2 separate regions of the Homo sapiens genome follow, and region 2 is linked to region 1. The links come from fine-mapping of genetic effects on gene expression. Tissue or cell type: sun-exposed skin. Region 1 holds a variant in brackets; the other region holds the start of a gene. All regions are shown on one strand. Distances are between the middles of the regions.

What was found. PIP is the estimated chance that this variant, and not a neighbour inherited with it, causes the effect.
Region 2: TSPAN2 starts here. The variant in region 1 is the best candidate, but not a certain one, in a credible set for the expression of TSPAN2 in sun-exposed skin (GTEx, PIP 0.64).

Annotation. Positions count from the first base shown.
Region 1 is chr1:115,038,891-115,041,797 of GRCh38, reverse strand. No RefSeq gene overlaps it. Among named protein-coding and RNA genes, the nearest start is that of TSHB, 11 kb to the right of the region's middle. The variant C/T (reference allele first, on the strand shown) is at 1,796.
Region 2 is chr1:115,087,807-115,090,713 of GRCh38, reverse strand. It overlaps TSPAN2 (tetraspanin 2), which reads left to right and starts at 1,211. Exons shown (of 8, transcript NM_005725.6): 1 at 1,211-1,350. The coding sequence starts at 1,282.

The sequences.
Region 1 (2,907 bases):
TGGACTTGGAAAAAATAAGGGAAGTCCCTGGATACCCAGGAAAAGTCCCTCACTCTCTTCCCTCTCTTTCCCCCAAGCAGGAGTCCCTCTCTGGGGTTGGCCACTTGGTGTTGTGGGAGGGGTGACTCAAGCACTCTGGCCATTGCAGCTGGCAGTGCGCTGAGTTGCATCTGATACCCATGACCTCCCAAACCAGCATAGGACTAGGACACTCAAGGCCCATGGCTGCTATTGTCTGACTGCACTGATGTTTATTCAAGGCCCAAGGACACTTTTGTCAGCAGGTAGTAAAGCCAGCCAAGAATTGGGTCTGCCCTGCCAGGGCAGTGGATTCCCTCCTGGTCTGGAGTGGGTATAGAAGTGTGGTCCAGGAGCAGTGGCCTAGAAATAGGGGCTTCAAGATTCTGCTAGGTGCTTTGTTTTACTGTGGCTGGGCTGGTACCCAGTCGCGAGACAAAGAGTAACATCTTGTTCCCCCAAGCAGAAGGAGTCTCCCTTCTTGCTGCACTGCCTGGAGTTGGGATGAGGTGACACCAGCACTCTCGTGGCTGCTGCAGCTGGTGTTGCACCAGGTCACATCCCAATCCCACTGCCTCCAAGACCAATGCAACACCAGGGTTTGCCCAAAGATGGAAGTCATTATGGCCTGACTGCCACTTGAATTTATTTGGAACCCCAGACCACTTTACTCAGCCTGTAGTGAAGCCGGCTGTGACTTGTGTTCCTCCTCCTGCTGCAAAAGATTCCCCTCTGCCCCGGGACTGGTTGAAGTGCTCCCTTCTTGAGCATCAGAGAAATTCTGCCTGGTGTTGTGTTCTGTGTCAGAACAGCTCTGAGTTCCAATGCAAAATCCCTCATATTTTGCTTTCCCTCCACTAAGCACGCAGATTCTCTCTCTGTGCTGCACTGCCTGGGGTTGGGAATGGGGTGGTGTAGGCAATGCAATACCGTCCTTCCTACCCTCTTTAATGCATCTTTCCTTGTTATTTTATTAAAACCAAGTGCTGTGATCTCTCACCTGATTTCTTAGTTCTTTTGAAAGGGCTTTATTTTGTAGATAGTTGTTCAATTTGATGTTCCTGCAGGTAGGGGGCCCTATCACTGCAGGGTTCTATTCCAGCATCTTGCCCCACTTCCTAGCTCCTCCTGTATACTTTAAATCATTTCTAGATTACTTGTTTACTTAATTCAAAGGACATGCTGTATAAATACTTGTTATGCTGTATTGCTTAGGGAATAATGGCAAGAAAAATTTTATACGTGTTCAGTACAGATGCAACCATTTTTTTTTTTTTTGGTCCAAATTGTTTTAATCTGTAGTCGGTTAAATCCACAGATACAGAACCCACAGATACTGAGGATCAACTATAGTTGTATTTTAATTCATATTTTTTATGTAAATTATACCTCTTTTCCGCAGAATTGCTCCTTTATTATCCATGGTTCAAGCTATAAAATTGCACACTGACGCAGGGTCCAGTGTGGTTCCCCATGCAGTCAGCAACTATAATTGTTCTCCTTACCCTGTGAGCGGTGTTTATAGATTTGGCTGAGTGAGAATGAGGCTGGTGGGAAGATGGCAATGAAGGAGATAGCATGTTTTCCCTTCTGAAACAGGTTTATCAAAGATGAAAAGGAAGAGGTACCCTTCTGTCATGGGTAAAATGGAGTTTCCACAGCCACTGGGAAAGCCACTGGAACTTTAGTAGGTGCACCACACCCCTGCTTTCCTGGTTCATGGCCCCTTTGACATCCTCTTTGACCACCAGCTCCTCAATTTCAACAACATCATTTT[C/T]GCCACCCCTGGGAGAGAACACTCATGGGCCTTCAAAGCTAGTAGATTAACTGCATTATCTTAGTTCGGGCTCATCCAAATCAAATTTATGTTAAGTTAGATTTTAAGAGGGACAAAAGGTTTCTACTTTTTTTCAGCATGATCCTTCGTTTTTTACTATAACATGTACCTGTAAGGTATTATATGTAAGTTTCTTTTGAAAGGTAAAAAGACTTCACCAATGCAAAATGATTTTTAAAAATATCCTCATTATAACAGCAAAGGCTAAATACATTCCAGAAATCCACTGTTCATATAGTTTATCTCCTGGGGATAGGGGAACCAGGAAGAACAGGAGTAACATGTCCTGAATGTTGCAAAGCATAATCTATGCTGATTTCATAAAGTTTTTAGCTAATGTATCAGAAATCCTTTCAAAGCTTTGGTAGTTGTTTGTGGCAGGAGGCAGCGTTGTCTGTATAATTTATGATGTTCTTATATTAAATGGAAAAAAATTAAAAGAAATTACCAATATAAAATGCCTAGCATACCTGGCAAGTAATGAATATTATCTGTTGTAATTATGTTAATACTCTGATGAGGAGAGGTTTTGGTTTTTTGGTTTTTTGCTTTTTTTTTTTTTTTTTAGATGATGGAGTCTCACTCTGTTGCTCAGGCTGGAGTGTAGTGGCATGATCTCGGCTCACTGCAACCTCCACCTCCTGGGTTCGAGTGATTCTCTTGCCTCAGCCTCCCTAGTAGCTGGGATTACAGGCATGCGCCACCACACCTGGCTAATTTTTGTATTTTTAGTAGAGATGGGGTTTCACTATGTTGGCCATGCTGGTCCTCGAACTCCTGACCTCAGGTGATCTGAACACCTTGGACTCCCAAAGTGATGGGATTACAGGTGTGAGCCAAGGAGAACTTTTTGCTAATTACAAGTCAAACAGCTTTCTAGAAATGATGCATAACTGAACATATTTCATTGTGATACCAATTATCCATTTGAACACATTTATTTGTAGAATTAATGAATAGCTTTTGATATCTTTCCCAATTCTATTTTAATTCAAAGACTTGAGATCAGTAGCCATAGCTAGAGTCCTTATGCTTTTCTCTGGGCCTACTCT
Region 2 (2,907 bases), 49 kb before region 1:
CTCGGGCTAACTGCGGTTCTCAGAACTCCCTTGGAGGCCTTGTTCTCTCCAGCTCTGTGCTTTTGCGCATGCTGTCTTCCTGGACTGATCTTTTCCGCCTGGGCTCCGTCTTCTAGACCAGATCAGGCCCCTCTCCTTAGCAATGCCTTTTCTGGTTAAGGCAGTCAGGCCAGGCACACCTGTCTAGCACCCAGCCCTTCTCTCCTCACCCTATTTGCTTACAGATCTGTCTCCAACACCAGAGACTGTGGTTCTGGGCCTGGCTGTCTCCTCATTGTTGAGTCCCTGGGGCTTGCTACTATGTCTGGCCTATAATAGGCACTCAAAGTTTTGCTGAATTTATGCATAAGCTCTCCGAATTTTGCTTTCTTGTCTCCCCCATACTGTCTGACACCACATATTGTAGACACTTAGTCAATGGAAGTGGGAGTCTGATTTTCCTGCCAACAGCCTAACTTAATAAAAACAAAGCAAAACAAAAACCGCCCCCTTCCCCTTTCTCCCATCTCCACATCATAATTAAGATCCCGAAAATTTGGGATCCTTCCAAGCCCTCCGATCAGTGGAACCCGGCAGGACATGAGAAGTCAGACTCCCTCCACTGGCCGGCTGGGTTGAGGGCAGCCCACAGGACTCAGGGCGCCGCCTCCCGCACCCTCTCTCAGTTCTTGCCTATTAAGGTAAGAGTCCCCCGAGGAGGGGGGAGGGGCCGGAGGGAGGGTCCCCTAGAAGCTGCTTGTGTGCTTGCTCCGCGCCGCGGAGCCGCAGCCCTGGACACTCAGTCAGGTGCCCCGCGACTGGTCCTGCCAGCTTCGGGGCAACCTCCGACCCCACTTAGCTCTTCTACCCGAGGTCACCTTCCTAGATTTCCATAGCCACGAGACCAAGTGCTTATCCCTCAAGCATCGCCCGGGCCTCAAACCGGTCTCCGCACAGGGCGCTGATTAAATGGGTCCCCAGTCCCCGGTGGGCGCTCCCGCCCTGCAGGTGCTCCGATAGCCGGCGGCGGTGCGCCCACTGGAGGGAAGGAAGGTGGTCCCTGGGTCCGGGAGAAGAGCGAACGTGCTCCCTCGGGCTGCTCGATCTCCACCCGCTGGCGCCCCCACCCGTCGCCAGCCACGCCGCTTGGGGTCCACGCGCCCCTCCCCGCCGGGCCCCGCCCCGCCCCCCGGAGGCCCCGCCCCGGTCCTCCCCGCTCCGCCCCCTCCCCGCCGGAGCCTGCCGCTCCCCGCGCTCGTAGCGCGGGCCTGGGGACTGGGGATCCCGCCGCCGGGCCGCAGCATGGGGCGCTTCCGCGGGGGCCTGCGGTGCATCAAGTACCTGCTGCTTGGCTTCAACCTGCTCTTCTGGGTGAGACCAGGAGCCGGGAGGGCCGGTCAGGGCAGGGGGCCGGGTGGCGGGCGCGGGGCCGGGGTCCCCGAGCTGCTGACTGCGGCGTCCGAGTCGCGCTCGTGGGGAGGGCTGGGTGCTCAAACGCGGAGGCGAGGAGAAGGCAAACAAAGAGGGAGGGGAGGGATGGAAGGGAGAGAACGGGAAGACAGAAGGTTGATCAATGAGAAATGGTGAGAAGGGGAGAGACACCGTGTGGCTCTTTCCTGGAAGGAACCCCCACCTGCCTTGGTTTTTATCTCCCAGCTAGTGACCCCAGGTGCGGGGACCCAGCCTCTCCTCACCTCCGGAGGACTTGGGTCCCTGTTCCCCTCCAGTCTCCCGTGCACACACCCCCTTTTCACTCTGCCTACCAGCTGGAACCAGGGCCTGGCCAGGGTGATGGGAGAGAAACCCCTGCCCTGGGGCTGCCTGGGGTGGTGCTCCATTCGAGTGTGTGGACACTGTACCTGGCTGTGATGGTTTTGTTTAGGAAATTGGAGATAGGAGTGAAAATTGTGGTGGGGGGGCGTCGTCCTTTTTCTGGGCATCAGGGTAAGAGTACCCCTGGGTGAGAGGAGGTGGTGGGTTCTCTTCTGAGAAGGGGATGGGGAATGGAAGGGCTTCTAAAGGGCAGCAGCAGCTCTCCACAACCCCCAGCCGCAGCCTCTGCTAAATACTAATTCTCCCAGAGATGATCTCATTCAACTTTGCAGGGTTTGATTGAACTGACAGCGTTCCCAGGATTCATGGTTCACAGAGAGATAGGATCTTGACCCTTGTCTCCTATATTATCGAGACAGGGATACAGCTAGACCAGACCTACATCCCTGGATACCCTGTCCCAGGGCCTGCAGGACTGTGAGACAAGGTCTGAAAATTGTCTTTTCTGCACATTTCCTCTTGGGCTTTCTTAAGAGAATGTCAGCCAGTGTAACTGCTCAGCTAGACCCTGAGGGGAAACATTGGATAAAGAGGTTTGAGAGCAGCCAGGGCCTGGGTGCTTTGAAACTACCAGGTTGGAGGAGGTGGCTGTCCTATCTGCTCTGGGGGACGTTGTCTTCCCATGATTGCAACTAATTAATTATTGAATGATGGGCTCCTCTTTTGTCTGTCAATCCATTAGCCCAGATGCCTGGGTGACTTCAGCAACTCCAAGCTCTTCAGTATCCTTCAGCAGTGGAAGGTGTGAAGGAGGTACCTCCTCGACATCCCCTGAACTTTAAAGAGACACATGGCCTTTGTACACGTGGGGATTTACATCAAGCATACTATAGGGAGAGGCGTTTCTGAAGACCCTTTATGTTGTATTTTTTAGGAATCTGGCTTAATTTCAGAAGCTGTTAATTATAGATGTCACGCCACAGTGACAACCTTCATTCTCACTGCTTATGAATTCAAAGCCTTATGAAGTTTTAAGCCTGAGGAGGAATTCTTAAGCTGGGTTCAGTGCTTATTTAGTGGCTGATATTGTACCAGCCTTTCCAGTGATAGCTGGAAGGATTCATTGAATGTTTTCAATGTGTCAGGGACAGTGCT